Linked DNA regions of Homo sapiens: region 1 is linked to region 2. The links come from fine-mapping of genetic effects on gene expression. A gene starts in region 2. The other region holds a variant in brackets. All regions are shown on one strand. Distances are between the middles of the regions. Region 1 overlaps CPAMD8 (C3 and PZP like alpha-2-macroglobulin domain containing 8). Region 2 holds the start of CPAMD8 (C3 and PZP like alpha-2-macroglobulin domain containing 8).

The links.
Region 1: its variant is fine-mapped to the expression of CPAMD8 in hippocampus (GTEx, PIP 0.94).

Annotation. Positions count from the first base shown.
Region 1 is chr19:16,994,544-17,010,639 of GRCh38, reverse strand. It overlaps CPAMD8 (C3 and PZP like alpha-2-macroglobulin domain containing 8), which reads left to right. Exons shown (of 42, transcript NM_015692.5): 6 at 1,320-1,337; 7 at 2,081-2,135; 8 at 6,254-6,367; 9 at 8,290-8,374; 10 at 10,118-10,226; 11 at 13,302-13,529. Among named protein-coding and RNA genes, the nearest start is that of CPAMD8, 24 kb to the left of the region's middle. The variant T/C (reference allele first, on the strand shown) is at 7,823.
Region 2 is chr19:17,017,482-17,033,577 of GRCh38, reverse strand. CPAMD8 (C3 and PZP like alpha-2-macroglobulin domain containing 8) reads left to right here and starts at 6,768. Exons shown (of 42, transcript NM_015692.5): 1 at 6,768-7,027; 2 at 11,397-11,548; 3 at 13,225-13,247. The coding sequence starts at 6,936. RefSeq lists an enhancer at 5,688-6,596.

The DNA of each region.
Region 1 (16,096 bases), 23 kb after region 2:
TACTGTGCCTCTCTGGCCCTGAACACTTGGCCTGTATCCTTTAAGAGCAAGGACGTTCTCTTATACAACTCAAGGAGGATCATCACATTTAAAAATTTTGAGGCTGGGCACAGTGTCTCACATCTGTAATCCCAGCACTTCGGGAGGCTGAGGCAGGAAGATCGCTGTGGCCAGGAGTCCGAGACCATTCTGGGCAACATAGCGAAACTGTCTTGACAAAAAATTAAAATAATAAAAATTAGTTGAGCATGGTGGCATGTGCCAGTAGTCCCAGCTACTTGGGAAGCTGAGTCAGGAGGATCTCTTGAGCCCAGGAGTTCGAGGCTGCAATGAGCTGTGATTGTGCCACTTGAACTCCAGCCCGGGCAGCAAAGCACAACCCTGTCTCTACAAAAAACGAAAAACCAAAAAAAAAAGAGGAGGAAAATAATTTTGACATTGACACAATAATAATATCTAATATAAAATCCATGTTGTTCCAATAGTAACCTTTATAGCATGTTTCTTTGCTGGTCCAGGATCTGATCGTGGGTCATTTGTTGCATTTGATCATCATGTCTCTTGGTCTCCTTTAATTTGAATTAGTTCCTCACTGCCTTTCTGTGTCTTCCATGACATTGACATTTTTGGCAAGTCCAGGCAGTTGTTTTGCAGAACGCCCCTTGGTAGGATGGTCTCCTGGTTCCTTGTGACCAAGTTCAGTCTGTGAATCTCGGGCAGGATCCACAGAAGCAATACTGGATCCTCCCCGGTGCCTTGTATCAGGAGGCACCCAGCATGGGTTTGTCGTGTTGCTGGGGACATTAACAGGGTCCAGTGGTTCAAGTAGTGCCTGCCTGGTTTCCCCATTTCTTTTTTTTTTTTTTGAGACGGAGTCTCGCTGTGTCACCCAGGCTGGAGTGCAGTGGCGCAATCTCCGCTCACTGCAAGCTCTGCCTCCTGGGTTCATGCCATTCTCCTGCCTCAGCCTCCCGAGTAGCTGGGACTACAGGCACCCACGACCATGCCCGGCTAATTTTTTCTATTTTTTGTAGAGACGGGATTTCACGGTGTTAGCCAGGGTGGTCTCAATCTCCTGACCTCGTGATCCACCCGCCTTGGCCTCCCAAAGTGCTGGGATTACAGGCATGAGCCACCTGTAATGAGTCTTTCTAAAGACCCTACTTGGGGTTAGGATTCAACGGATGTAATCTAGGGGGACACTGTTTAACCCATAACAGCGACTGCCTGTCCCGGGGACCGAGGCCATGCATGAGCATGTTGAAAGGGTTTGGGGTTTGCTGGAAGATTTGCTCACTGCATCTGTGTCTTCATTACAGCTGGAAGCCTACATCCTGGTGAGTGGCCTCTGTCCTTCCTCGGCTTGGACTTGGGGCCCGGGTAGCCCACCTTCTGCAAGATCTGGTCTGTCTTCGCTCACTGTCTGCCTTCTGGGTTGAGCCGCTGTGCCTTACAAGGCTGGGACCTGGCCTCTTCTATCCTGGTCCCTGGGTCCGCCCTGGGATGGGCTGTGTGTGTGTCTGTCCGTTTCCTTTTTTTTTTTGAAATGGAGTCTCGCTCTATCACCCAGGCTGGATTGCAGTGGTGCTGATCTTGGCTCACTGCAACCTCTGCCTCCCGGGTTCAAGCGATTCTCCTTCCTCAGCCTCCCGAGTAGCTGAGACTACAGGCGTATGGCACCACACCCAGCTAATTTTTTTTTGTATCTTTTTTAGTGGAAATGGGGGTTTCACCATGTTGGCCAGGCTGGTCTCAAACTCCTGACCTCAGGTGATCCGCCCACCTTGGCCTCCCAAACTGCTGGGATTACAGGTGTGAGCCACCACACCCAGCCACGTCCATTTCTAGGTTTGTACACGGCTCCCTAAATGAGGAGGTAGGCCCAGCCCATCCCCTTCTGCTTTTCAAATCCTTCTCTATCCAGAGCTTTTTTTTTGCCCCGGGGTTAATGATTAATCTTGGGACCTTCGCTGCATGGTTGACATGCCCAAGAGAGAGGACTGGGAAAATCCTTACATTGGGCACATGCTAGGCTAGCCTGAGTTCACTCCGTGTGTCTGTCCCCCTCCACCACCAACAGGACCCCCGAGGCTCTCGGATGATAGAGTGGAGACACTTAAAGCCGTTCTGCTGCGGTAAGTTTCTTCCTCTGCGGCTTGGGGGCTGCAGATGTGATAAACCTTCCAGGAAAACAGAATATGCTCTGTCCAGGGCCCACCGCTAATGTACCCCCACTGCTGCTCCAGCTGGAGGGGACCAAGGAGGAGCGGAGGGCAGGTACCCACCTGGGAGGTGACAATGCCATGGGTTTGGATCTGGGAGCCTCAGCCCAGCCCACAGCACCTTCCCTGTGGATTTGGACCCTCTGCCCACGTTTCTCTATGCCCAGGACTCAGGCGGGGCTCCTGCTCAGAACTCAAGACCTTTGTGGAATACTGGGGCACCTGCTCTCACCTTGTTTTTTATTTTTTGAGACAGAGTCTCTCTCTGTCACCCAGGCTGGAGTGCAGTGGCACAATCTCAGCTCACTGCAACCTCTGCCTCCCGGGTTCAAGAGCGTCTCCTGCCTCAGCCTACCGAGTAGCTGGGATTACAGGTGCATGGCACCACGCCTGGCTTATTTTTGTATTTTTAGTAGAGATGGGGTTTCACCATTTGGCCAGGCTGGTCTCCAACTCCTGACCTCTCAGGTGATCCACCCGCCTTGTCCTCCCAAAGTGGTGGGATTACAGGCGTGAGCCACCACGCCCGGCCTGCTCCCAGCTTCTTCCTGCTATAGGTTGCAGATTTTATCATCCCCATTGCATGAGATATTTCTTTTCCAGCTAGAAGTCAGAAAGGACTTTGCTTTTTTCTTTTCTTTTCCTATGACTAGGAAGACTGTGTAATTGACATACCCCACTTTGCTTTGCCTGTGAGGGGTGTGATGCCCCAGGAGAGGGCAGGGGATAGGTAGGGTGTGGGGAGTCTGGGGATGGCCATGCACACACCCAGGCTGTCCAGAAATGGGGTAACAGTAGAGCCACAGGCAGGATCACGGGGGTCTGTTGGTGACCCTTCCTCCTTCTGTCTCCTGCCTTGGGTCTCAGCCTCTTTTCTTCTTCTTCATCTTCCTTCTTTCTTGTTCTTTCTTCTTCTCCTTCTCTTCGTCTTATTCTCCCTCCTCCTCCTCCTTCTTCTTCGATCTTCCTTCTTCTTTCCTCCTCCTCCTCCCCCTCTCCTCCTGCTTCTTCTTCCTCCTTCCTCCTTCTTCTTTCTTCTTCTTCCTCCTTCTCCTTTTTCTTTTCTTCTTCTTCTTTTTTTTTAAAATACAGTCTTGCTATTGTCACCCAGACTGGAGTGCAGTGGCACGATGTCGGCTCACTGCCACCTCCGCCTCCCGGGTTCAAGCCATTCTCCTGCCTCAGCTTCCCAAGTAGCTGGGATTACAGGCACGTGCCACCAGGCCTGGCTAATTTTTGTATTTTTAGTAGACACAGGGTTTCACCATGTTGGCCAGGCTGGTCTTGAACTCCCAAACTCAGGTGATCCGCCCGCCTCGGCCTCGGAAAAGTGCTGGGATTACAGGCATGAGCCACCGTGCCTGGCCTCAGCCTCTTTTCTTCTGTTCCATCTTCCCTGTCTGCCTTCTTTACTCCCTCTCGTTCCCTTGATTGCTGTCTTTGTATCAGCAGCTATTTGTTGGGCGCCACATAGATACTGCCATGGGGTGAGCTTTCAACCCAATGGGGGAAGCAAACATGAACTAAACAGCCTGGATAATGTCAGTTGTGATGAGTGCTAGGAAGGAGAAGTTCAAAACTCAGAGATGGCAAATGGGGCTCTATCCCAGCCCGGGGTGGCAGAGGCAATCCTGGAAGGCTGCCTGAAGGAGGATCCTTTTCAGCAACAAAGAAGGAACGGGGGACAGCCAGGCAAAGCAAGGGGGCCAGGAAGCATCTCCCAGGCAGGGAGTCAACTTATGGGAAGGGCTGTGGATGTCTAGGGTAGTGAGGTTGGAGATGGGGGACAGGAGAGAGATGTTGAGTGCTGAGAGCAGGGGTGACACTGGCAAGAGCCAGGGAAGAGAATGGATTTGATCTTTTTTTAAAAAGTTTTTTTTTTTTTTCTCAAGAGGCAGGTTCTCTCTCATTCTGTCACCTAGGCTGGAGTGCAGTGGTGTGATCATAGCTCACTGCAGCCTCTACCTCTTGGGTTCAAGTGATCCTCCCACCTCAGCCTCCCAAGTAGGTGGGACCACAGGCGCGTGCCACCAAGCCCAGCTAATTTTTTAAATTTTTGGTAGAGACAGGGTCTCAAGATGTTGCCTAGGCTGACTTGATCTTAAGAGCACAGAGTTGGGGAAGAGGTCAACCTCCTGTTTAAAAAAACCCTTTGAGGCCTGGCTTGGTGGCTCACACCTGTAATGCCAGCACTTTGGGAGGCTGAGGCGGGCAGATCACCTGAGGTCAGGAGTTCAAGACCAGCCTGGCCAACATGGGGAAACCCTGTCTCTACTAAAAATACAAAATTAGCTGGACATGGTGGCGGGTGCCTAAAGTCCCAGCTACTCAGGAAGCTGAGGCACAAGAATCTCTTGAACCCGGGAGTGAAGGTTGCATGAGCTGAGATCATGCCACTGCACTCCAGCCTGGGCAAAAGAGCAAGACTCTGTCTCAAAAAAATAAAAAAAAAACCCTTTGGGATGTGTGTAGACCCATGATTCTCAACCAGGGTGACTGTGCCCCTCTCTCAGGGAGCACTTGGCAAAGTTGGCCACAGACCCCTTACAAAACACGTGCTCAGGACACACATCCCCGAATGTCCTGTAACCATCAAAGGCCCACTTTGCCTGAATATGAGGGGGAAAAAGCCATTTTAGCCATCACATCTTCTGACTCCAATGTGATTGAGAGAAGCCGTGGGCGCCGCTATGGGTTTTCGGTTCTGTCGTGAGACCCAGGGGAACCACTCTCCCTGTCCCTTCCCTGTATGGCCCTCCCCATATGATCATTGGGGACGAGTGGAGCGTGTCACACTCAGGAGTGGAAGATCCCCTGGCACTGCCTAGAGTCAATGTGCCCTTTCCAACTCCTCCATGGCTCCCAGTGAAAACAGCTGCGGACGGGGCTCAGAGGCACAGGCGCAAAGCAAATGACAGCTCCCATGTCAGCGGCTGATGGTGTTTCTGGGGGGATGTTTGGGGAGAGAGTGCTCTGTTCTAAAGTGTGTGCGTGCTCTAGTTCAGTTGGGGGGTGGTTCTCATGGAGGGGTGGGGGGTCGGACAGGCGATTCTGCCCCCAGGGGACATGGCAATGTCTGGGGACATTTTGGCTTGTCAGGACTTTTGTGGAGGACAAGGGGTGCAACTGGCATCTGGTGAGTGGAGGCCAGGGAAGATGCTCAGCACCCCTCAGTGCTCTGGGATTTCCACCAAGGGGTGACTTTGCCCCCTAGGGGCGATATTGGCAATGTCTGGGGGACTTTTTTAGGTTGTTATATTGTAGAGGGCATTGGTACTACTGACCTTTGGTGAGTGGAGGCCAGGGATGATGGTCAGCACCCCTCAGTTTACAGGATGCCCCCACACCACAATGAATGATCTGGCCCTAAATGTCAGTAGTGCTGAGGCTGAGAAACCCTATCCTGGCAGGAGACCCTGTCTGTCTTGTCTGTTTCTCTCTCTCTCTCTCTCTGTCTGTCTCTCTCTCTCTCTGGGATTTCCACCCAGGGGTGATTTTGCCCCCTAGGGGCGATATTGGCAGTATCTGGGGGACTTTTTTAGGTCGTTATATTGTGGGGGGCATTGGTACTACTGGCATCTGTTGGGTGGAGGCCAGGGGTGCTGCTCAGCATCCTACAGCTCACAGGACACCTCCACCCCAGAGAGCCACGTGGCCCCAGGTGTCAGTAGTGCCCAGGCTGGAAATGACTCGGGTGGCGGGGGATGGAGTGAATGAGCCGGGCTGGCTCATTTCCCTCGTTTGTCCAGCTCACTGCCTGCCCCTGGCCCTGGCTGCAAGGCTGTCCCGGGAACCGCGGGTCCAGTCCCTTCCTGCATCCCTTCGAAGCCCGCCGGGGTGTCAAACCTGCTCCGCTGGCCTGATCCTACAGGGTGCTGCTCTGCACAGACCCCGCCAGCTTCTCTGTGGTCTCCAGTTCTCCTGGGGGGCTGCTCAGGGAAGGAGAAGGAGCAGGGTCCTGGCTCCCTCTTCCCGTACCTCACCGTGTCTGTGGCTCTCTGAAAAAGCCCTTGCCCTCTCTCTTCACACAGGCATCACCAACATGAGCTTCCCCTTGTCCGACCAGCCTGTGTTGGGAGAATGGTTCATTTTTGTTGAAATGCAAGGCCACGCGTACAACAAGTCTTTTGAAGTTCAGAAGTATGGTAAGTTGGAGAATCTCAGGGTCTTGGGATTTCAGATCTGGGAGAAACCTTAGAAACTGGTGAAGAAGGCCGGGTGCAAGGGCTCTCGCCTGTAATCCCAGCACTTTCGGAGGCCCAGGTGGGCGGATCACTTGAGGTCAGGAGTTTGAGACCAGCCTGGCCAACATGGCGAAACCTCGTGTCTACTAAAAATACAAAAATTAGCCGGGCGTGGTGGCGCGCACCTGTGGTCCCAGCTACTTGGGAGGCTGAGGCAGGAGTATCACTTGAACCGGGAGGCAGAGGTTGCAGTGAGCCAAGATCGCACTACTGCGCTCCAGCCTGGGCGACAGGGCGAGACTCTGTCTCAAAAAAAAAAAGAAAAAGAAAAGGAAACTGGTGAAGATGGCAGTGAAGAGGTGGAGGATGACATGAGTCCCCGTTTACTGAGGGCTCATGATGGCTGGGTATAGTTTCAGGGGATGGTCCTACACTCTTACTTTTTTTTTTTTTTTGAGGCAGGGTTTCACACCCATCACCCAGGCTGGAGTGCAGTGGTGCGATCTTGGCTCACTGAAGCCTTGACTTCCCAAGTTCAAGTGATCCTCCCTCCTCAGCCTCCTGAGTTGCTGGGACTACAAGTGTGAGCCACCACACCTGGTTAATTTTTGTATTAGTAGAGACAGGGTTTCGTCATGTTGCCCAGGCTGGTCTAGAACTCCTGGTCTCAAGCAATCCTTCCGCCTCAGCCTCCCAAAGTGGACTCTTGCCTTTTATAGAAAAAAGTATTGTAGGCCAGGCATGGTGGTGGCTCACACCTGTAATCCCAACACTTTGGGAAGCTGAGGCTGGAGGATCGCTTGAGGCCAGGAGTTTGAGACCAGCCTGGACAACATAGTCCCTGTCTGTATAAAACTTTAAAACAATTATCTGGACATGGTGGCACGTGCCTGTAGTCCCCGCTACTCGGGAAGCTGAGGCGGGAGGATTGCTTGAGCCCAGGAGATCAAGGCTGCAGTGAACTGTGATTGCACCACTATTCTCCAGTTTGGGTGACAAAGTGAGACCCTGTCTCAGAAAAAAAAAAAGGTGGCCAGGCATGGCAGCTAACGTCTGTAATCCCAGCACTTTGGGAGGCTGAGGTGGGTAGATCACTAGAGGTCAGGAGTTCAAGACCAGGCTGGCCAACATGGTGAAACCCCATCTCTACTAAAAATACAAAAATTAGCCAGGCGTGGTGGCATGTGCCTGCAGTCCCAGCTACTTGGGAGGCTGAGGCAGGAGAATTGCTTGAACCAGGAGGAGGAGGTTGCAGTGAGCCAAGATCGTGCCACTGCACACCAACCTGGGAAACACAGTGACAATCTGTCTCAAAAAAAAAAAGAAAAGAAAAGAAAAGAAAAGAAAGAACGAAAAGATTCTTAGGCTCCTACAAGAGTTCTCTCAGGACCCGATTCTTTCTGGTTTACCGGCTGC[T/C]CCAGGGTGTCACCTCCGCCCCTGGTGACAAGATGGCTTGATACTCCCAGGGCTGAGTCCAGAAGCAAATGGAGAAATCAGCTCTCTGTTGCAGTCACCCTGGGGATGCCCCTTGTTGGCTCCCAGGGCCACCTCTATCCCATGCACAGACACAGGGGCTAGGAGGAGCCTCCTGGCCTCGTGTCCACCCTGGGATAGGCTGGAATCCGCCACACTCTAAGCACGTGGTCTAAAAGTGACAGGGGAGGCCCCTTGAGGAAAATGGGGTCCTAGTCCCCCAAAGATGAGAAATAGATGCAGCCCACAAAATCCCCAGGGCTGCTCAGCAGAGTGGTGTGGATGGGTACAGTGTCAACCTCGGTGGTGGCCAGGTGCTGTGGTCCTCAGACACCTTGCACCGGTGTCAGGGCTCCTGAGGCCACCTTAGGGACAGAAGCCAGCCCCTCCTCTCTGCTTGCTTTCTTCAGTGTTGCCCAAGTTTGAGCTTCTGATTGACCCGCCCCGGTATATCCAAGACCTGGACGCCTGTGAGACAGGCACTGTGCGGGCCAGGTGAGAAAGAGGGACCCCTGGGGCACACTGGGGGGGCCCTTCCCCTTCCCCAACCATCACGCTGCTCCCTCAAGGTCGTTCCCCTCCTCTGCTGCCTCCCTCCCTCCCACATGGGTGTGCCCCTCCCTTCCTGGTTCCCTCCTCCCTGGGGTGTGCCCCTCCCCTAGTGCATCTCCCTTCCTGTGACTCTCTCCAGTAGGCGCCCCCTCCTCAGGAGGTGCCCCTCCCCCTAGAGTATCTCCCTCCCCACCAGGCTCCTCCCCTGTGGGCGCCTCCTCCCTGGGGTGTCCTCCTCCCTCTAAAGTATCTCCCTCCCTGCTGGGCTCCTCCCCTGTGGGTTCCCCTCCCCAGGATGTGGCCACCCGCTAGAGCATCATCCTTTCCCGTGCCCCTCCCCTGGGGGCACCCCCTCCCTGGAGTGTACCCCTTTCCCTAGAGCATCTTCCTCCCCCTGGGCCCCTCCTCTGCCCTCCCCTTCCATCTCCCCCAACAACCGGGCTTCCCCCTCCTCCTACAGGCAGACACTTCTTCCATGGCCTCCCTGCTCCCACAAGGGTGCCCTGTGCCCCGCTCCCTCCCTAGTACTCGGTGTCTCCCTGCCACATGAGTCTCTTGCACTCTACCCACTGCCTGTCTTTGTTTCCATGCTGGTGTCCTCACCCCTATGAGCACGCCCCTGTCTCTCCAAAGCATGCCCCTCTCCCGCTGTGTATTCCTTCCTCAAGTCCTGCCCTTCCACTCTAAGTTCTTCCCTCCCCAAGGGTCTCCCCTCCCCAAAGAATGCCCTACCCCCCAGGGTGTGACCCTCCCAACCCCACCATGTTCCCCTCTCCCCCAAGGCTGCTCCCCGCCCTCTGCAGGCCTCCCTGGCATCCAACAGCACCCCCGCCAGTGTGCTGACCCGAGAGGGGTTGATCCTTGTTTTTTTTTTTTTTTTTTTTTTTTCAGACGGAGTCTTACTCTGTCGCCCAGGCTGGAGTGTAGTGACAGTCTCAGCTCTCTGCAACCTCTGCCTACCGGGCTCAATTGATTCTCCTGCCTCAGCTTCTCCTAGTAGCTGGGATCACAAGCATGTGCCACCACACCCAACTAATTTTTGTATTTTTAGTAGAGACAGAGTTTCACCATGTTGGCCAGGCTGGTCTCGAACTCCTGACCTCAAGTGATCTGCCCACCTTGGCCTCCCAAAGTGCTGGGATTACAGGCATAAGCCACCATGCCCAGCCTGCACTCTCTCATTTTGCTCCTGTTCCCCATCCACCAGCATTCCCTCTGCATCAGGAGTGACATACAGACATTTAAGTTTCACTATCACCCCTGAGAGGGTAGTTTGAGTCCCATTCTCTGGGTGAGGAAACAGGCTCAGAGAAGTTCGGTCCTTGGTTCAAAGTCGAGCTTAATAGGGCGCTTAGGCTCAGGTGCCTCTCAGTCGCTCATGCCTCTGCACTACTCTGCTCCAGAGGTGGCACCAACCTAGCCTTCTCAGTTCCAGAGTTCCTCTCTGACCCTTGGTCTCTTTTTCTGTCCATCTGGAGGCTTGGTGCAGAGGATCGGAGGGCCTTGGCATCTTCTGTCCCGATTCCAGGCTGCAGGGAGGGCTGTCAGGACAGGATGCAGGGTGTGGAGGGAGCTGCATCCATCACTGTACTAGTGGCCACACTATGTCAACCTGGCCTTCCTGAGGCTGGGCCCTCCCTGCCATCTTGGCTGTGAAATTGAGCATGCTTTATCCTTTTGTTCCAGGTATACCTTTGGGAAACCTGTGGCTGGTGCCTTAATGATCAACATGACTGTTAATGGTGTAGGGTACTACAGCCACGAGGTGGGACGCCCTGTCCTCAGAACAACCAAGGTGAGAAACAGGGACCCCTTCTACCCCCTGACCCAACCCCCAGGTTCACCTCCACCAGCACACATTTTATTTTACTTTCTCTTATTGTTATTATTTTATTTACTGCCTTTAAAAAGTTTTTGAATAGAGACAGGATCTCACTATGTTGCCCAGGCTTGTCTTGAACTCCTGGGCTCAAGCGATCCTCTCGCCTTTGCCCCCAAAAGTGCTGGGATGACAAGTGTGAGCCACCGCTGTTTTACTTTCTAAAACAGTTATATGGCAGGGATTTTTCTGATGATAAAATTCCTGCAGGCTGAATATAGAGACTTTAGAAAATATAAAAAGGAAGAAAATAAAGATAACTTGTTCTCCAATAGGTGGACATGACCACTATCGATATTTTGATGTGTTTCCTCACAGGTTATTGTAAGTAAAGTTAAAAAAACACCAATTTGGCTGGGCATGGTGGCTCACACCCGTAATCCCAGCACTTTGGGAGGCCAAGGCGGGCGGATCACTTGAGGCCATGAATTCGAGACCAGCCTGACCACCATGGCCTGGGCGACAAAGTGAGACTCCATCTCAAAAAACAAACAAAAAACAAAAAAACACTAATAAACACTAATTTTATTGCCTGGAGTCCCAGCTCTTAATATTTGGAAGGTAGAGGCAGGAAGATCTCTTGAGCTCAGGAGTTCAAGGCCAGCCTGGGCAACATAGTGAGATCCCATCTCTAAAATAAAATAAAAACATAAACAATTTTATTGAGATATCATTCACATAGCATACAATTCACCCATGTAGAGTGTACAGCTTGATGGTTTTCTTTTCTTTTTTTTTTTTTTTGGAGATGGAGTCTTGCTCTGTTGCCCAGGCTGGAGTGCAATGGCGTGATCTCGGCTCACTGCAAGCTCCGCCTCCTGGGTTCATGCCATTCTCCTGCCTCAGCCTCCCCAGTAGCTGGGACTATAGGTGCCCACCACAACACCCGGCTAATTTTTTTTTTTGTATTTTTAGTAGAGACGGGGTTTCACTGTATTAGCTAGGATGGTCTCGATCTCCTGACGTCGTGATCCACCTGCCTCGGCCTCCCAAAGTGCTGGGATTACAGGCGTGAGCCACTGCGCCTGGCCACAGCTTGATGGTTTTCATATAGTTGCAGAGTTGTGCAACCATGGCTGTTATCCAATTTTAGAATTGTTCCACCATCCTTCCATACATCCTTCATGTCCTTTTGCAGAGAATCCTCATTTCCCTCCTCCTGTCTCTGGCAACTACTATCTGTTTTCTGTCTCTGTAGATTTGCCTGTTCTGGACATTTCTGTGAATGAATCATATGCTATATGTCCTTTTGTGTCTGGCTTCTCTCACTCAGCATCATGTTTTTGATGTTTGTCTACATCGTAGCATGATCAATGCTTCATTCCTTTTTTATGGCTGCATCATATTCCCTGGTACAGATGGACCACAATGTGTTTATCCCTTCATCCGCTGGTGGACATTTGGGTTGTTTCTGCTTTTTGGCTATTATGTCTCATGCTACTATGAACATCCCTGTGCAAGTTTTTCTGTGGACCTACATTTTTGTTTCTCTTGGGTTCTTTCCTAGGAGCGGAATTGCTAGGTCAGAGGGTAACACTATGTGTGACCTTTTGAGGAACTGCCAAATGGTCAATGTGGCTGCACTATTTTATATTCCCACCTGTTTAAAGTTTTGTAACCTTTTTTGGTCTTTCAGCATAATGTTACATTGTGAGTGGGCTACAGTACAACAGACACCCACCTTCCTGGAGATTCCCATCCCTTTGTAGGTGCCCGGACATTAAGCCTTTCAGCACCGGCTCCTCCCCACCTCCCACCCAAAGCTCCTTCTCAGTCCCTTTCCCACCTGAGACACATCTGCTCCAATGGGCTCCCCTCTCTTATGTCTGAGATATCTTTAATTTAATTTAATTTAATTAATTTATTTATTGAGATGGAGTCTCTCTCTGTCTCCCAGGCTGGAGTGCAGTGGCACGATCTTGGATCACTGCAGCCTCTGCCTCCTGGGTTCAGGCAATTCTCCTGCCTCAGCCTCCCATGTAGCTGTGATTACAGGCATGTGCCACCGTGTTGGGATAATTTTTGTATTTTTAGTAGAGACAGGGTTTTGCCATGTTGGCCAGGCTGGTCTTGAACTCCTGACCTCAAGTGATCTGCCGCTGCTGGCCTTCCAAAGTGCTGGGATTACAGGTGTGCACCATCACACCCAGCCCATCTCTCTGCTCTCTGAGGCTTCTCTTCCATGGATTGGAAACCATAAACCCCTACCTTTCCCATTCCTGACACTGGCACCTTGGAGAATCCCAGCCATTCTCCTGGGAGGCTACCAGCTGATGGTCTTTGACTTAGTTCTCTCATTTACGGAGTAATTTACTCCACAGCTCTTTCTGAATGAGGATTATTTGCCAAGTCCCAGGGTGGGATCCTGAGATAGGAATTGAATGAGGGAGTTCTGGTGCCCCAGAGTGAGGCTGAGCAGGTTCAGCTGCCCCCTCTGTTGCCTGGGCTGTGGGAGATTGTGTCAGCATGGGAATCTCTTTCCTCTTTTTTTTTTTCTTAACCCAGGCTGGAGTGCAGTGGCACAATTCAGGCTCACCTCAACCTCTGCCTCCTGGGTTCAAGCGATTCTCATGCCTCAGCCTCCCAAGTATCTGGGATTACAGGTGCCTGTCACCACGCCCAGCTATTTTTTTACATTTTTACTAGAGGCGGGGTTTCGCCATGTTGGCTAGACTGATATCGAACTCCTGACCTCAAGTGACCCGCCCGCCACAGCCTCCCAAAGTGCTGGGATTACAGGCGTGAGCCACCGCACCCAGCCTCTTTCCTCTTCTGCCCAATGGAGCCAACATCCATCTTCCCTGGGATGTTGTCCAGATCCAGTGAGGGACCCTCTGCATGGTCCCGTGGCATAGATTGGGTATGCCACCAAGTGACCCCTGGCCCTCCAAGCAGCTGAAGAGTCTTGCACCTCAGGTGTGTGTTTCAGGGACATCCCTCAAAGACACTCCAACCCTGAGTGAGCACGGGCTGTGTTTTTCCTCCCTCCAGATCCTCGGCTCCCGGGACTTCGACATCTGCGTGAGGGACATGATCCCAGCGGACGTCCCTGAGCACTTCCGGGGCAGGGTCAGCATCTGGGCCATGGTGACCAGTGTGGACGGGAGCCAGCAGGTCGCGTTCGATGACTCCACCCCCGTGCAGAGGCAGCTGGTGGACATCCGGTACTCCAAGGACACGAGGAAGCAGTTCAAGCCGGGCCTGGCCTACGTGGGGAAGGTAACTTGGGGGTGACTGTGCTGCCTCCCGCCCAAGGACCACCGTGAAACCACCACCACTAGCCACTAGCTCTGCAGTGGTGACTCAGCTGAAAACGGATCCCCTGACATAACCTTTGCGGAGAGTGGAGAGGGCTGGTGTTCCAGGTGAGGGGCAGGGGACATTTTCCTCCACGGGAAAGGACAATCTACTCTATTCCACTTGGACAGACATCTGAGTAGCCATTTATTAAAGCAACTGCTCTAAGGCAGTCCTGTTTCTTCAATGGGTTCTTTTTTTTTTTTTTTTTTTTTAGAGATAGTCACACTCCATCGCCCAGGCTGGAGTGCAGTGGCTCCATCTCGGCTCACTGCAACCTCCGTCTCCCAGGTTCAAGTGATTCTCCTGCCTCAGCCTCCCAAGTAGCTGGGATTACAGGAACATACTACCAAGCCCAGTTAATTTTTGTATTTTTAGTAGAGACGGGGTTTCGCCATGTTGGCCAGGCTGGTCTCGAACTCCTGGCCTCAAGTGAACTTCCCGCCTTGGCCTCCCAAAGTGCTGGGGTTACAGGCGTGAGCCATCACTCCTGGCCCTTCACTGGGTTGATTTTATCCCCTGAGGACCTAAGTTGAGAGCCCTGCAAAGGTAGACCTTCTGTTCCTGAGACTGACAGGTGCAGACCCATGTGACATTTTGAACGAGCCTCTGCCTCCCACCCACCACTCAAGTCTTATGCACGGTAAATTTTGAGGTGTCCAGATGTCATGATCCTTATATATGTTTTCTTCTTAGAGACAGGGTTTTGTTCTGTCGCCCAGGCTGGAGTGCAGTGGTGAGATCATAGCTCACCACAGCCTCGACATCCTGGATTCAAGCAATCCGCCTGCCTCAGCATCCTGGGTAGCTGGGACTGCAGGCATGAGCCACCACGCCCAGCAAATTTTTTTATTTTTAAATTTTTATTTATTTATTTATTTTGAGACAAGAGTCTCGCTCTGTCGCCCAGGCTGGAGTGCAGTGGCATGATCTCGACTAATTGCAACCTCTGCCTCCTGGGTTCAAGTGATTCTCCTGCCTCAGCCTCCAGAGTAGCTGGGATTACAGGCATGCCCCACCATACCCCACTAATTTTTGTATTTTTAGTAGAGACGGGGTTTCACCACATTGGCCAGGCTGGTCTTGAACACCTGACCTCAGGTGATCCACCTGCCTCAGCCTCCCAGAGTGCTGAGATTGCAAACAGGAGCCACCGCACCTAGTCAATTTTTTAATTTTTTGTAGAGATGGGATCTTGCTGTGTTGGCCAGACTGGTCTTGAACTCCTGGGCTCAAGCAGATCTCCTACCTCAGACCCCCAAAGTGCTGGGATTGCAGATGTGAGCCACTACACCCAGTCATTATTCTTATTTTAACTGTTAAACTGGGGTAGGCTGGGCACGGTGGCTCATGACTATAATCCCAGCACTTTGGGAGGCCCAGGTGGGCGGATGACCTGAGGTCAGGACTTCAAGACCAACCTGGCCAACATGGTGAAATACTGTCTCTACTGAAAATACAAAAATTAGCCAGACATGATGGTGGACACCTGTAATGCCAGTGACTCAGGAGGCTGAGGCACGATAATTGCTTGAACCTGGAGGCGGAGGTTGCAGTGAGCCAAGATCACACCACTGCACTCCAGCCTGGGAGACAGAGTGAGACTTCGTCTCAAATAAAAAAACAAAAAACAAAAAACAAAAACAAACCTGGGGCATCTTCACCCCAATTGCAGCAGCAGGAGTGGGGCAAGGCCAACAGAGCCCAGTGTCATGCAAGGGGAAAGTGGGCCACATCCCTGGCCCTGCATCTGTCTGCACCCAGTTCCCTTTTGCCGTCCATGAGTGATGCTGGCTGGCTGTCCTAACACTGAGTTCTGACCCTCTTGTTCTGCTTTGGAACCTCCTTTCTCTTCTCCATGCCAGTGTTGGAGCCACCTCTATCCCATGCACAGACACATCTCCTGTGTCCCTGGCTTTGAGGGCCCCAGCTTGAGTAGAAACTAAAGTACCTCGTGCGGGGTCAGAATGTGTATGAAGAAGAGGTTTAAGGCTACAAATTTGGTAAAGAGCGTTTCACATATGACAGAAAATACCTACCATCTGCATTCAAGAAAGGAGTGGTTAGGCTGGGCATGGTGGCTCATGCCTGTAGTCCCAGTGCTTTGGGAGGCCGAGGCAAGAGGACCACTTGAGGCCAAGGCAAGAGGACCACTTGAGGCCAAAAGTGTGAGACCAGCCTGGGCAACATAGTGAGATCCAGTCTCTACAAAAAATAAAAAGAAATAGGCCAGACGTTTGTGGCTCACACTTTGGGAGACCAAGGTGGGAGGATTGCTTGAGACTGGGAGTTTGAGACCAGCCTGGGCAATAGAGCAAGACCCCAGCTCTACAGATTTTTTTTTAAAATTAGCCAGGCATGGTATTGTACACCTGTGGTCCCAGCTATCAGGAGGATGAGGCAGGAGGATTGCGAGCCCAGGAGGTAGAGGCAGCAGTGAGCTATGATCGGGCCACTTCACTCCAGCCTGGGCAACAGAGCAAGACTCT
Region 2 (16,096 bases):
AAGAAAAACGCCCATTGACAACAGGACAGTCTTTGCGGTCTTCCTCGTCCCCCATCCAAACTGCAAAGCTGCTCATCCTAGGCATGTTTGGAGATGTTTGACAACCACTTACCATGGGGCTAATGCAGCCAGTTCCGCCCTCACACAACAGGGCCATTCCTAAAAATGACCTCACGCTGCAAATTCACACAATCAAACCACAGGGCTCATGGGAAAACGGGTCAGGGCACAACCATCCAAATGTCACCAATGACACCTAAAAAAAAAATAGGCACCTACTAAAAATGGTAGTGACATTGTACAAATGTCAAATGGTTAAGAATTTCAAGAATATGGCCGGGCGCGATGCCTCACGCCTGTATAATCCCAGCACTTTGGGAGGCCAAGGCGGGTGGGTCGCTTGAGTCCAGAAGTTGGAGACTAGCCTGAGTGAGATGGCAAAACCCTGTCTCTACTAAAAATACAAAAAAATTAGCCAGGCATGGTGGTACATGCCTGTGGTCTCAGCTACTCGGGAGGCTGAGGCGGGAGGATCACTTGAGCCCAGGAGGTTGAAGCAGCAGTGAGCCCTGATTGTGCCGTTACACTCCAGCTTGGACAAGAGAGTGAGAACCCATCTCAAAAAAAAAAAAAAAAAAGAAAAGAAAAGAAAAGAAAAAAAATACACAAATACAGTATCAGCCTTGGAAAGACTGAAGGCTCATTTGTGGACCTGGGCATGGGGAGGTGGCAGCCTGTGAGTTACTGTGAAGGTCTGGGAGGAGATCATCTGAAATCAGGCGGGATATTGTAACCTCAGACAGGGACAGATGTGGCTCCTGGCACACAGCAAGGCACTGAGGGAGCACAGAGATGCTGGAGAGGGTGCAGGTGTGGTTTTTGTGTATTCCTACGTGGCTGGGGTCAGCCAGGTGCAGTTTTCTGCATTCATACCCAATGTTTCTTGCAGACAAAAATCTTACATAAGTGAACACAATATTTGATTTTATGCTCAAATCATTCCTAATGCATCCATCATGTCGGAACACATTTGTGCTTTCAAAACAAGTGATAAAGTGGAAGTGACTGTACTCCGCCCATGGGTAATTTCAACCTACTGGCGTGAAGTGACTAAACATAGAGTTAGGAAGAGATCTGTGTTATTATGGAGTATTTTCACCATGCATAACCTCAAGAGTACAGAGAATTGTAAAATGTAGTAAAATGAAGACGAAGTGATGAGTTTTGAGTACTTTCAGCGCCTTTGCTATTTATTTATTTATTTATTTTATTTGAGACAGTCTCACTCTGTCGTTCGGACTGGAGTGCAGTGGCATGATCTCAGTTCACTGCAACTTCTGCCTCCTGGGTTCAAGTGATTCCCTTGCCTCAACTTCCCAAGTAGTTGAGATTACAGGCATGCACCACCACCCCTGGCTAATTTCTTGTATTTTTAGGAGAGATGGGGTTTCACTATCTTGGTCAGACTGGTCTCGAACTCCTGGTCTCAAGTGATCTGCCCTCTTTGGCCTCCCCAAGTGCTGGGATTACAGGCTTGAGCCACCTCGCCCAGCCATATTTTTAATACACGTTGAGCATCTCTAATCTGAAAATCCAAATTCCACAAATGCTCCAAAATTTAAAAATTTTCAGCGCCAACATGACGCTCAAAGGAAACACTCACCAAAACATTTCAGATTTCAGATTTTCAGATTAAAGATACTCTGGGCATGATGGCTCATGCCTGTAATCCCAGCACTTTGAGAGGCTGAGGCAGGTGGATCACTTCAGCTCAGAAGTTTGACACCAGCTGGGCAACACGGTGAAACCCTGTCTCTATAAAAATACAAAAATTAGCTTGATGTGGTGGCATGTGCCTGTAGTCCCAGCTACTTGGGAGGCTGAGGTGGGAGGATTGCTTGAACCCAGGAGGTGAAGGTTGCAGTGAGTCAAGATCGCACCATTGCACTCCAGCCCAGGCAACAGAGCCAGACTACACACACACACACACACACACACACACACACACACACACACACACACACGATACTCTACCAGTAAGTATAATGCAAATATCCCCAAATCTGAAAAATTAAAAATCTGGAACATTTCTTGCACTGACCGTTTTGGAAAGTGCATTTTAGATTAGGCATTTTTTTCTTTTTGAGACAGGGTCTGGCTCTGTTGCCCAAGCTGGAGTGCAGTGGCCCATTCTTGGCTCACTGCAACCTTCACCTTCCGGGTTCAAGTGATTCTCATGCCTCAGCCTCCCAAGCAGCTGGGATTACAGGTGCCTGCCATGACACCCAGCTAATTTTTGTATTTTGTAGAGATGGGGTTTCACCATGTTAGTCAGGCTGGTCTTGAACTCCTGACCTCAAGTGATTCACCCACCTTGGCCTTCCAAAGTGCTGGGATTACAGGCGTGAGCCACTGCACCCGGCCGATAATGCATTTTGGCTACTCAACCTGTATAATGTGTTTCATTGCAAATCGGTATAATTTAGTTTTTAGTCATGGCTTTGTTAACTCAGGCTTGTATAATTCATGGAATAGTATCAACTGACTCTTCTAAGCAGCGAGCCTTCTCCCGTGTGCTGATGAGGCAGTAATCTGTGTGAGGTGTGCCCACTTTGAGCCAGGGGCTGCGGCCAGCAGCAAACGGGGGGCTCACATCCCAAAGAAGACAGACAGGAAGCAGATGTGTATGGAATAATAAGACCATGCTCTGTGTTTTGTGTACCATGCAGTCAAACTGGATGACCGGGCCATGCTAGTGTCCTCATTGGCTCCTATTCACCCATGATCTAAATCAAGGGTCCCCAACCCCTGGGCCACAGACTGACACTGGTCTGATATTGGATGAGTAAGCAAAGCTTCATCTGTATTTACAGCCTCTCCCCATCGCTCACATTATCGCCCGAGCTCCACCTCCTGTCAGATCAGCGGCAGCATTAGATTCTCAGAGAAGCCCAAACCCTATTACAAACTGTGCATGCGAGGGATCTATGTTGCATGCTCCTTATGAGAATCTAATGCCTGATAATCTGCCACTGTCTCCCATCACCCCCAGGTAGGATCTCTGGCTGCAGGAAAACAACAGCTCAGGGCTTCCACTGATTCTACGCGATGGTGAGTTGTATCATTATTTCATTATATTACAATGTAACAATAATAGAAATAAAGTGCACAATAAATGTCACGCACTTGATCATCCCAAAACCATCACTGTCCCTCCCATCACCTTGCCCCTTGTCCATGGAAAAAATGTCTTCCATGAAACCTGTCCCTTGTGCCAAAAAGGTTGGGGACTGCTGCTCTAAATAGTATGAGATGGGCCCGGCACAGTGGCTCATGCCTGTAATCCCAGGACTTTGGGAGGCTAAGGCAGGTGGATCACATGAGGTCAGGAGTTCGAGAACAGCCTGGGCAACATGGTGAAACCCTGTCTCTACTAAAAATACAAAAATTAGCCAGGCATGGTGGCAGGCGCCTATAGTCCCAGCTACTTGGGAGGCTGAGGCAGGAGAATCGCTTGAACCCGGGAGGCATAGGTTGCAGTGAGCTGAGATCACGCCATTGCACTCCAGCCTGTGTGACAGAGTGAGACTCCGTTAAAAAAAAAAAAAATAGGCCGGGCGCGGTGGCTCACTCCTGTAATCCCAGCACTTTGGGAGGCCCAGGAGGGCGGATCACGAGGTCAGGAGATCAAGACTATCCTGGCTAACATGGTGAAGCCCCGTCTCTACTAAAAATACAAAAAATTATCCGGGCGTGGTGGCGGGTGCCTGTAGTCCCAGCTACTTGGGAGGCTGAGGCAGGAGAAAAGTGTTAACTCGGGATGCGGAGCTTGCAGCGAGCCAAGATCGCACCACTGCACTCCAGCCTGGGCGACAGAGCAAGACTCCGTCTCAAAAAAAAAAAAAAAAGAGTATGAGATGGCCAAACATACAACATGTGACATTGGGTGGGTGAGATCTACAGTTTAGTGCTCACCTATTCTCACACAATGACGGGAGGAGGACCCTGTACACTGTGTGAGGCCACACAGGGGTTGCACTCGGGAGCACAATGAACAAGCAGGGGCTGTGGGAAGCAGGCTTTGTAGTAATAAGAGGGTGAGGCAGCCCCTGGTTCTCCTGGGAGGATGTGATTGGTTTCTTTCTTTCTTTTTTTTTTTTTTTTTTTTTGAGACGGAGTCTCACTCTGTCACCCAGGCTGGAGTGCAGTGGCGCAATCTCGGCTCACTGCAAACTCCACCTCCTGGGTTCAAGTGATTCACCTGCCTCAGCCTCCCGAGTAGCTGGGATTACAGGTGTGCACCACCACACCTGGCTAATTTTTGTATTTTTAGTAGAGATGAGGTTTCACCATGTTGGCCAGGCTGGTCTTGAACTCCTGGCCTCAGGTGATCCACCTGCCTCGGCCTCCCAAAGTACTGGGATTACAGGCATGAGCCACCACGACTGGGCATGGCTTGTTTCAATAACTTCTCAGCAGCTAGGGAAGTGAAGTCTGTGGCTGATGGGTGGGGTGCAGCTGGTCTGGTTGCTTGGTGAGACAGCCAGGTGGAGAGCAGCTTCTCTTGCCAGGCAGGGGGCATATTTGGCAAGAGTAGCTGAACGGTCGGTCAGGACATCGTGGTCCTGTGTGGCTCAACCATGCCAAGGCAGCACTGACATTTTAGACCTTACAAACCAGGCAGGCAGGGAAGGCACCTCCGGGCTAACCCTGAAGGTGGAGGAGAGCAGCCGGTCTTGTGATGCCACGGGGAAGTGCATCCCAGGCAGAGGGGACAGCTGGCACCTTGGCCCAAGATGGTGGTGGTGGGTGGGGGTCTGATGTATCTCAGGAGCAAATGTGGCCAGAGCCCAATGGTCAAGGGGGAGGCGGAGGGCTCAAAGGCTGGCCTGGAGGCTGAGGAGTGGAGGTTGGCTTAGGTAGGAGTCAGAGTTGGCCTGGAGGGGCCCGGAGGGGTGGCATGGGGCAAACTTCGATGATGAGGGTGAGATCAGATGCTGCTTCTTGGTGCTAGATTTTTGCACCTCCATGTGAGTTTAGCAGCCTGTTTGGGGTTGGCCTGGTCTGAGCTTGGAGGCAGGCAGCTCCTCCTCTTCTCCAGGCAGGAGAGACGGCTACTCAATCTACTCCGGCCCCTGCGCGCGTGCACGCACACACACACACCAACACACCATCATCAGTTACGTCCCCTCTGGGTTGTGTGCTCAGTGGCAGCAGGTCCTGTATGTCCCAGGGTCCTCATTGCCCAGCCCAGGGCTTGGTGCTGCCTGGGTGATCAGTGTTGGGTCCAAAGGCTGTTGACAGGGCTGAGAAGCCCCCAGAGGACCCACATCCCTAGGGGCAGGGAGGGGGCAAGAGAAGCTTCCCTTGAGTTTCCTGGAAGGATCAGGAGTTGGACTGGCAAAGGAGGCAGGTAGAGGAAGACAGAGATTAGGCAGAAGCAGGCAGTGGAGTAAGAACAGGGTGTTGGAGGAACTAGGCTGAGGTCTCTGCCATCAAAGCCAGAGTTTAGATTTGGTCTCAATAAACGGGAAGCCCTGGCTGGATGTGGTGGCTCACACCTGTAATCCCAGCACTTTGGGAGGCTGAGGAGGGAGGATCATTTGAGCCCAGTGCTCAAGACCAGCCTGGGCAACACAGTGCGACTCCGTTTCTAAAAAAAAATATATAAAAATTAGCTGGGTGCGGGCTTGCACCTGTAGTCCCAGCTACTCTCCAGGAGTCTGAAGCTGCAGTGAGCTGTGACTGCACCACTAAATTCCTGCCTGGGCAACAGAGCAAAACTCTGGTCTCAAAACATAAAAATAAAATGTAAAATAAACAGGGAGCCCCGAGGATTCCGGGCAGGAGGGGGTGTGGTCAGCACTGGAATTTTAGAAGAAGGGCAGTTGGTAGCTGGGGGAAGGGGGTTCCACACTGGAAGGAGGGGGTCCAGGACTTGGACATGGTATAGGATGTGCCGCCTGCCAGTGGGACCTAGGACAGCAGGACCATCACTGAGGTGGCCACACGGGGAGGGGCAGGAGGGGACACCCTGCTCTTGGAGAGAAAGGGGGTGCCCATCCACCCCTGCTGTATGAAGGGGAAAGGGGGACTCTGAGGCCCAGCGAGAGAGGGGACGGGCCCAAGGGATTTGTGGACAGTGGGGGTGGGGGAGAGGGGAGCAGAGAGCACAGATAGGGACCTGGGGCAGATGTGAGTCTGGGAGGTTCGACCCCTGGCTAGACTGTTTCCCCAAAGGGTCCTCTGCTCCTTGGGCTGTACGCACTGCACTGGGCACTAGATACAGGCCAGGGCTTAGGGCACGGCGGCGCCTGTGGGATCGGGGTTGCAGGCGGCGTCCAGACCCAGGGGCCCCTGGTGAGGGGCGGGCCCGGGGAGGGGGCCATAAGGGGCTGGCTGGGGAGGGAGGGAGGGAGAGGCCAGGGAAGGGACAGGTTCCGAGTGGACGCTGGGTGGAGAGGAGAGGGAGAGTGGGGGCGGTGGGGGGTCGGGTCCGAGGCGGGGCTGGTGGGGAGGGGGGCATCCGGGGGCGAATCCGGGTAGGGGGTGAGGAGGCGGGTTCGGAAGGAATCGGGCAGGGCCCGGGTGGGTCCGGTGAGTAAGTGAGGGGACGATCCCCGGAAGGGATCGGGGCGGGTCGGGGTCCGGAGATGGGCGGAGCAGGCGTCCCGGGAGGGTGCGCCCAGGAGCGGGGCGAGCGGGGCGAGCGGGGCGGTCCCGGAGACGAGGCGGGTCCGGGGAGGGGGCTGGCCCGGGGCTGCCCCAGCTTGGCCGGGCGCGGAGCGGGGCGCATGGCGCCGGGCGCACTGCGCGGGGGCTGCGAACAAAGGGCCCCCGGCGGCGGCGCGAGGACGGCCGCGCTCGGACCCTGGCCCTGGCCCAGCCCTGGCCCGGCCCCCTCCCCAGGCGCGGCGCCCCCCAGGAGCCGAAAAATGAGCGGCGCCCTGCTCTGGCCGTTGCTCCCGCTCCTGCTCCTGCTGCTGTCGGCGCGGGACGGCGTGCGCGCCGCGCAGCCTCAGGCCCCGTGAGTATCCTCCGGCGACAGAGGAGGTCGGTCGCCTTCTGGGGTGGGGGTCGCGGGTACTGGCTCAGAGTGTTGCAGCGACCTGCCCAAGGCCACACAGCCTCCGCGCTGGGCTGGACCTGGCCTCTTGTTCCCGAATCGTCTTGAGGAGGGGGCGCCCTAAAGTTTCCGAAGTGGCTCTGTGGAGGTACAGGGACTCCCAAAAGCTAAAGGTGCTGAGGTCAGCTCCCCCCGCCCCACCTCGCCCCCTTCGTGTGACCCGGGCTGTCATCATGGGTGGCGATTTCCAGTTGTCCAAGGTATGAAGGTAAGAGGAGCGTCTTGGCTGAGAAGTGGGAGGAGAGTGCGAAGGGGCACTTTCCCGTGGGTGGGCGTGGTGAGGGAGGAGGAAGTGTTTGTTTTGCTTCTACATTTTTCTAGAGGTTTGCTTGCAGGCTTCTGGTGGGTTGACAGCGGGGAGAAGGTGAATTAACTAACTGCTGGGGAGTACTGCTAAGTTGGCTTCACAGAGAATATTTCTAAACCTGGCAAGTTCGGGTGAGCTCTGCAGGGCTGCGGGTTCAGGGGGGCTGCCCTGGTCTGCACAAGACCAGCCTTTTAGTCCAGCTGGGCGTTTAGAAGGCGGCTTGTTCAAGCAGCCCTTGTTTAGGAGTTTCCAGAAAACTGGTAAGCAGTGAGACTAGGTGGGTGTCGTTATTTGCAGTGAGTAGTTGGTCCTTGCTGGTCACAGTTTTAAAAGCAAGACAGTCTACTGCGCTCTGAGCATCCAGACTTCCCTCTCCTAGGCTTCGTGAAATCGGAACCCTACAAATTTTCATCCTAATGCTTCTTTCAAAGCTGGCATCCCTTAGAATAGTGGTTCTCAGCCCTGGGGGGGATTTTTGTCTCCCTGAGGCCGCTGGGAAATGTCTGGAGGTATTTTTGGTTGTCACAAATAGGGAGAGGCATTTGGTGTTGGCATTAAGTGGGTGCAGGCCAGGAATGCTGGTAAACAGCTTTCGATGTGCAGGTCAGCTTCCACTGCAAGGAATGACGCGGCCCCACATGACAGACCTTGGCTCCAATGAGAGACCCTGCCTTATACAGAGGTTTTTGTTTGTTGTTTGTTGTTTTTGGGGTTTGTTTTTGTTTTTGTTTTGAGATGGAGTTTTACTCTTGTTGCCCAGGCTGGAGTGCAATGGCACGATCTTGGCTTACTGCAACCTCCGCCTCCCAGGTTCAAATGACTCTCCTGCCTCAGCCTCCTGAGTAGCTGGGATTACAGGCGTGTGCCACCACACCCGGCTAATTTTTTGTATTTTTAATAGAGATGGGGTTTCTCCATGTTAGCCAGGCTGTTCTGGAACTCCTGACCTCAGGTGATCCACCCACCTCCGCCTCCCAAAGTGCTGGGATTAGAGGCGTGAGTCACCGTGCCTGGCCCGTTAGAGAGTTTTAAACAGTTCTCCAGGGCGTTTTCCTCTGACTAAAGTCACCCTGTGATCTTACCATCTGTTAAGTGACATGGAATCCCTGTGCTGAGAGACACACTGGGGAAGAGATGTCCCCAAATGACCGACCTGGGATTCCAGATTAGCTGGCCTCTAAGCCAGGGGCATGGTTCACCCAGCCCAAAGGATCTCGTCTTAGGAATAGCTCTGGATGCCCACTTCTGTCACCTGAGAGATTTTTGTGTGAGGAATCTCTGATCCCAGAAAGCAGCACAGTTTGCAGTTGTAAGAGCAATTCTGTCTACACTGACCCAGACATCCCTTTCCCCAATCTGGGACCTTCTGAGACCAGCAGGATGAGAAGCAGTGTTGGCCCAGATGCTAGGGGTGGGTCAGGTGTGACAGTGAATGGCTGGCAAGCATCCCAACAGCTGGAAACAGCTGCAACTTCTGAATGGCAGGGAAACTTAATTTGGTGATGTCAGTTTCTCTGGGCAGTTGGATGAAGACTTGAACCCGTATTGTCAGGAGTTTCAAAGGTGACCAAGCAAAATGAACACGTATTCCTTACTCTCTCTTCTACACTCACCATGTACTATATGTGAGGCCCGTCTAAACTCTAGGGATCAGCTGGGAGCCAGACAGAAAGAGTATTCCCCTTTTAAAGGATGCCACATTCCAGTGCTGGAGCTGGACAGGACACCTGGACAGGGTAATTGCATGTCCTGGTCAGTGCTGGAGTTATGTAATACACAGCACATACCCAGGGTCTTGCAAACTCCAGTTGGTCCTAGAGTTGGACAGCACATGTGTGATCCCAGGGGACTGAACTCTGGTAATTATTCAAGGCAGATGTAGCACACTATGATCACAGGGTCAGTGCACACTGTGGCCAGGGCTGCAGTAAACAACCCAAACCCATTGTTCGTGTGCATGAAACAACACAAACCCACTGCGTCTTTTGAGATGCAAAATTGGTAATGATGTTTTCATGAAGTTTGGTTTATCAGTGAGTTATTTTATGGATCTTATTTTTGGTATCTTACTCAAGAAATCTTTGCCTAATCTAAGCATGCAATGACTTTCTCCTTTGTTTTCTTCTAGTGTTTCTACAAGTTTTACTTCTTCAATTTAGATCTGTTACTAAGATTAACTTTGAGTTAATCTAATTGCATGGTGTGAGGTAATGTTCTCAATTCATCTTTTTGCATGTGGATGTTGGGTTGTTCTAGAGACACTATTGAGGCCAGGTGCAGTGGGCCTGTAATCCCAGCACTTTGGGAGGCCAAGGTGCGCAGATCACTTGAGGTCAGGAGGTCAAGACCAGCCTGGCCAACATGGTGGAACCCAGTCTCTACCAAAAATACAAAAATTAGCTGGGTGTGGTGGTGCACGCCTGTAGTCCCAGCTACTCTGGAGGCTGAGGCAGAAGAATCCCTTGAACCTGGGAGGTGGAGGGTACAGTGAGCTGAGATCACACCACTGCACTCCAGCCTGGGCAACAGAGCAAGACTCAGTCTCAATTAAAAATAAATAAATAAATAAATAAAAATAAAAAAAGAAAATATTGAAATGAAAATGTCTCCTAATCTCATTGCATGGTCCAGTTTCCCCCTTTACCCTCTTTTCTTCTGATTTCCATCATTCTACATGGTTGCAATTGTGGTGCCTTTGCTATAATGCTCTTGGTGATTGTGGGGACACTGTAAGCATTTCATGAGGTTACAGGGCCTTTGTAATTTTCCATGGAAGGCTGCAGATACTGGGAGACAGGAGCTCAGGTGGGGAGGACCTGGGCCCTCAGGTCAGGTCCCCTAAGGGCACCTCAGTGCCCTCTTCTGCCTGGCTGTGTGATCTGGTGCATGTTCCTATTCTTCTGAAGCATCAACTTCCCATGGGGAAACTGGGGGTAATGCCTCCCTTCCAGAGGTGACTTCATAGTCAATCAGAAGATTTTAGGAAAGAGAGGCCTGCTTTGATTCCATTGTTTTCAGAGCTCTTTTTGTTTGAGGCCCTATGGTTTGTTTTCAGGGTTTGTTCTTAAAATGAATGTTGCAAAGAAGCCCTTTGCTTCTTTTTATCAGGTTTTGGAGTCTGACCGCCTGAGTTAGAATCCTGGTCTGTCACTGTTGCGGCTGGTGACTTGACTTCTCTGGGGTTTCCTTTCTGACTTTCTAAATGGGGCTGATGTCAGCACTTCTCACGGTGGTGGGGGACGGGGTGCACCGTGAGGATGAAGTGGGATCCTGCCGGTTACCTGGCTTGTGGAGGAGAGTATTTCAGACAGTGGGCATGACATGTGCAAAGGTCCTGGGCCAGAAGGGCCAGGCGTGGTGGATCACACCTCTAATCCCAGAACTTTGGGAGGCTGAGGAGGGTGGATCATTTGAGGTCAGGAGTTTGAGATCATCCTGGCCAACATGGCAAAACCCTGCCTCTACTAAAAAGACAAAAATTAGCCGGCCGTGGTGGCAGGCACCTATAATCCCAGCTACTTGGGAGGCTAAGGCACGAGAATCCCTTGAACCCGGGAGGTGGAGGTTGTAGTGAGCCGAGATCATGCCACTGCACTCCAGCCTGGGGGACAGAGCAACACTCTGTCTCCAGGAAAAGAAAAAAAAAAAAAGGTCCTGGGGCAGAAGGAAGTAGCTGAGTCAACAGGCTGGAGGCCGGAATAGAGAGAGTAAGAGGGGTTGTGCAATGCTGAAAAATCCAGTGAGGCCAGATTCTTACCCAGCATGGGGACTTCACAGGTGAAAGAGCCAATCCATGGACTCAAGAACTGATGGGGGGGCACAGACTCCTAGAGCATCAATGCCAGCCAGGTGTGGTCAGCAAAAGGCAGGAGTCTGCTGCGAGGAGAGCCCTGACCTAGCTGTGGTGGCAGCGAGACCAGGGGTCTGGGGTGAGAACTTCACCTCGGATCTCCTTTCCTGCAGGGGTTACTTGATTGCAGCTCCCTCTGTTTTTCGCGCGGGCGTGGAGGAAGTCATCAGCGTGACCATCTTTAACTCTCCAAGGGAAGTCACGGTCCAGGCTCAGCTGGTGGCCCAGGGTGAGCCGGTGGTGCAGAGCCAGGGAGCCATCCTGGGTAGGTCCCTTGGGTGCCAGACCAGGACTTCCCCTTCTTTTGCAAAGTGGAGCCACTTGCTGGCCTTCAGGGCTGGGGCAGTGTGGGTGTTGCTTTGCTTCCCTTCTGCCCTAAATCCCCAGGGGCATGGGAGGGAGGGAGGGAAGACAGGTTGCATTCTCCTCATTCTACAGATGGAGAGAGAGTAAAGCCCAGGATGGGCAGCTCAGCTCATGGGTCCTCAGCAGCCCTGGTTCTGTGGGTGCAGATCTGGGCAGAGCACGGGCACCCACCTGTGTCAGCTTTGACCAGAGGTGGGACAGGGGACCTGAAGGAGATCACATGACCCCCCTCTGACCTTTTGTTGGGTTTCCAGCACACCTGAACCATTAGACTCAGACCTGGGCTCACAGGCCTGTTACTAAGTGCAGCTCAGGCCCTCAGCCAGTCTCTCCCCTTCACTCCTTGGTCAAATGCAGACAGCAACAGCCTCAGCCTCCTGGTCAAGATAGTGAATGCAGATCCCTGGCTCAGAAAGCTGTAATCTCCCAGGGGAGGTAGACTCATTCCTCATGCCGAGAATGATGTAGCCACAGGAGACACAGAGAAGGCCAGGGGCTCCAAGGCCAGTGAAGCAGCACTTGTCTCTTAGGGAGGTGTGGCCAGAGAAGGTGGAAATGTGGAAGCTTCTAGAACCTTCTAGAAGCCCTTCTAGTCCTAGAAGAACCAGGCACTCCTGACTTGGGTGGCTAGCCAACTGAAACCCAACCCAGTTGGCTTCTGCAACAGTTTGTGGTCTCTCATACCTAGAAAGAAAGTCCACTGGTATTGCTGGCCAGCTTCTCCCCCTACCTCTTGATGCAACCAGGTCTCTCCTTAAGATCAGGGGAAGCACCAGTCTCCCAAGATGGCTGGATAAAGTCCCAGGATTCCCTCTGATTGGCCTATCTTGGTTCATGTGCTCAACCCTGAGCCAATCACTATGACCAGAGGGGAAGGCCTATGCTGATTGGTTCATTTTGGGTCATGTGCTCAGCCCTGAACCAATCACTGTGACCAGGGGGAAGGCCTATGCAGATTGGCTCAGAGTCCCAGGAAGGTGGATGGAGAGCTTGGGAGCCACGTGCGTTGTGTGCTGGGCAGATAGCTTGTCCAAGGAAATTGAGGATCTGTTAGCAGGAAATGGGATAATGGTTGCTGGGAGGCAAAAATAATAGATACCTAATTGAGTCCTGGAGGCCAGAAACCTAGTACAGTAGCACAAATGATTTAGTGTGGGTAGCAGAGAGAGGTGATGGGAGAACAGTCAGGTCCACTGGGGACCTCAGTCCCCTCTTCTTTCTCTCCACCCTTCTCCTTGTTCCTCTCCCCTGGTGTTTTCCCATTACTCCCCTCACAGCTTAGTTTGGACAGGAGCCAGGGGTGAAGTAAATCAAGTACTTAGGCAGGCCAGCTTTGCCCTGAATAGCTCAGCTTTGTCCATTCCCTCTGGCCTTCAGCTTGTGCCAGCTTGGAGGAAACCTCTGGCTTCTGCCAGTCCTAGCCTGGCCCAGTCCAGGCCAGCATGACCCAGGGTGTGTTTGTCCACATGAAACCCCTTTGGGTTAAGAAAGTTTGTGGTTTGTGAGGCTGCAGCTCAGGGAGGCAGGGCAACACAGCTCTTGATTTAACTTTTTTCATTTTATTTTCATTTTTAGATAAAGGGACAATCAAACTCAAGGTAAGCCGTTGATTTTTAAAATCATAAACCTGACCTTGGAAATAAAGAATTGAATTGGGCCAGGCGTGGTGGCTCACACATGTAATCCCAGCACTTTGGAAGGCCGAGGTGGGTGGATCACCTGAGGTCAGGAGTTCGAGATCAGCCTGGGCAACATGGTGAAACCGCATCTCTACTAAAAATACAAAATTAGCCAGGCGTGGTGGCACATGCCTGTAATCCCAGCTACTCGGGAGGCTGAGGCAGGAGAATCGCTTGAACCTGGGAGGCGGAGGATGCTGTGAGCCGAGATTGCACCATTGCACTCCAGCCTGGGCAACAAGAGTAAATCTCCGTCTCACCAAAAAAAAAAAAAAAAAGAAAAGAAAAAAAAAAAAGAATTGAATTGGGATGGAATAAGAGAAATTGCATGTGTTGTGAGAAAAATCATTTTTAAAAAAGAGATGTAAAAAATGAATAATGAGGCTGGGTGCCATGCTCACATCTGTAATCCCAGCACTTTGCGAGGCTGAGGTGGGTTGATCTCTGGAGCCCAGGAATTCAAGGCCAGCCTGGAAAACATGGTAAAATCCTGTCTCTACAAAAAAAAAAAATACAAAAATTATCCATTAGCTAGGCATGGTGGTTCACGCCTGTTCTCACAACCACTTGGGAGGCTGAGGTAGGAGGATCGCTTGAGACTGGGAGGTTGAGGCTGCAGTGAACTATGATCGCACCACTGCACTCCAGCCTGGGCAACAGAGTGAGGCCCTATTTAAAAAAAAATGAGAGAATAATGAAATTTAGAAAAGGAGAAATCCACCGATAATCCAGTTTTCATACTTTTCACTTTTTCATGTTTTCCACACATTCTTGTTCATGCACATACATTTTCTTTTCATAGTTTCAGTTAAAGGACACACACCACTGGCCGGGCGCAGTGGCTCATGCCTGTAATCCTAGCACTCTGGGAGGCCGAGGAGGGTGGATCACCTGAGGTCAGGAATTTGAGACCAGCCTGGTCAACATGGCAAAACCCCATCTCTACTAAAAATACAAAAGTTAACTGGGCATGGTGGCGCACACCTGTAATCCCAGCTACTCGGGGGCTGAGGCAGGAGAATTGCCTCAACCCATGGGACGGAGGTTGCAGTGAGCCAAGATCTCACCACTTCACTCCAGCCTGGGCAACAGAGTGAAACTCCGTCTCAAAAAACAAAACAAAACAAAACATAACAAAAGAAAACAAAACACCGTGGTGTTTCCTAGTCCCTCTTATCACACTGTTGTAAACAACTTCCATGTTTCCAAGTCTCTGTAATTGGAATTTCCATTTCATTGTAAGCAGCATCCTATTGCACCCCTCTTAAATATCAGTTTGCTAAGCCCCCAGCTAGATTTTTTCTAGATTGTTTCAGTGGTTTTTTTTTTCTTTTTTTTTTTTGAGATGAAGTCTCACTCTGTCTCCCAGGCTGGAGTGCAATGGTACAATCTCAGCTCACTGCAACCTCTGACCCTGGTTTCAAGCGATTCTCGTGCCCCAGCCTCCCAAGTAGCTGGGACCTCAGGCATGCACCATCAAGACTGGCTAATTTTGTGTGTGTGTGTGTGTGTGTGTGTGTGTGTGTGTGTGTATTTTTAGTAGAGATGGGGTTTTACCATGTTGGCCAGACTGGTCTGAAACTCCTGACCTCAAGTGATCCACCCACCTTGGCCTCCCAAAGTGCTGAGATTACAGGCATGAGCCACCCTGCCTGGGCTGTTTTCAGTGTTTTGATACTGTAATCCTTAAGTCGCCAGAATGTTTGTATGTAAAGCCATATTAGCATTCTGGATGCCTTCTTTAGGCTAAACAGCCAAATTGAAGAATTACCAGCAGGACCCAAGCCTCTCACTGGGTCTTGCTGTGTCCTGGAATACACAGCAGTACCTGTTCATGGAACCACCTGCAGTACATTAGGGATCAGATTTCTCCACTGCCTCTCAGACATTGAATATTGTTATTTTTAAATTATTATATGTACCAAACTATGTAAATAATTTTATGACATGGGTTTTCAAACTGGAGTCCTTGGATTTCAGATATTATGTAAGCCCTGGAATTGCGGCATTTGGGGGGTTAGCTATTCCTTAACTTTTACCACATGCTCAAAGGAGTCTACGAATGAATGGGCTAAATTGAGAATTATTTTAAATTATAAGGCGCCCATCTCCATTGATCAGAATGGAGGCTGAGATAGTTCCTTTTGTATGAGGTATACCACTAGTGCCTATTTGCTGCAGGACAGTGGTCTTCCTGCCTTACTTTTTTTTTTTTTTTTTAAGCAGTCTTGCTTTTTCTCCCAGGCTGGAGTGCAGTGATGCAATCTTGGCTCACTGCAACCTCCGCTTCCTGGGTTCAAGTGATTCTCCTGCCTCAGCCTCCCCAGTAGCTGGGATTACAGGTGTGCACCACCGTGCCCAGCTAATTTTTTTGTATTTTTAATAGAGATGGGGTTTCATCATGTTGGCCAGGCTGGTCTCAAACTCCTGACCTCAGTTGATCTGCCCACCTCAGCCCTCCCAAAGTGTTGGGATTACAGGCGTGAGCCACAGCACCTGGCCCCTCCATTACATTTGATGATAGAACCCTTTCTCTAAGGCAGCAGTTCTCACTCAAGGGGGCTTTTGCCCTACAGGGCACATTTCGTAAAGTTTGGAGACATTTTTGGTTGTCACAGCTGGGTTGGGGCTGGGCGGTGCCAGGTGCTACTGGCATCTGGTGGGTGGAGGCCACAGCTGCAACTCAACATCTTACAATGCGCAGGATCCCTTACAGCAAAGAAGGATGTGGCCCCAGAAGTCCACATTCAGGAAACCCTGAACCAAAA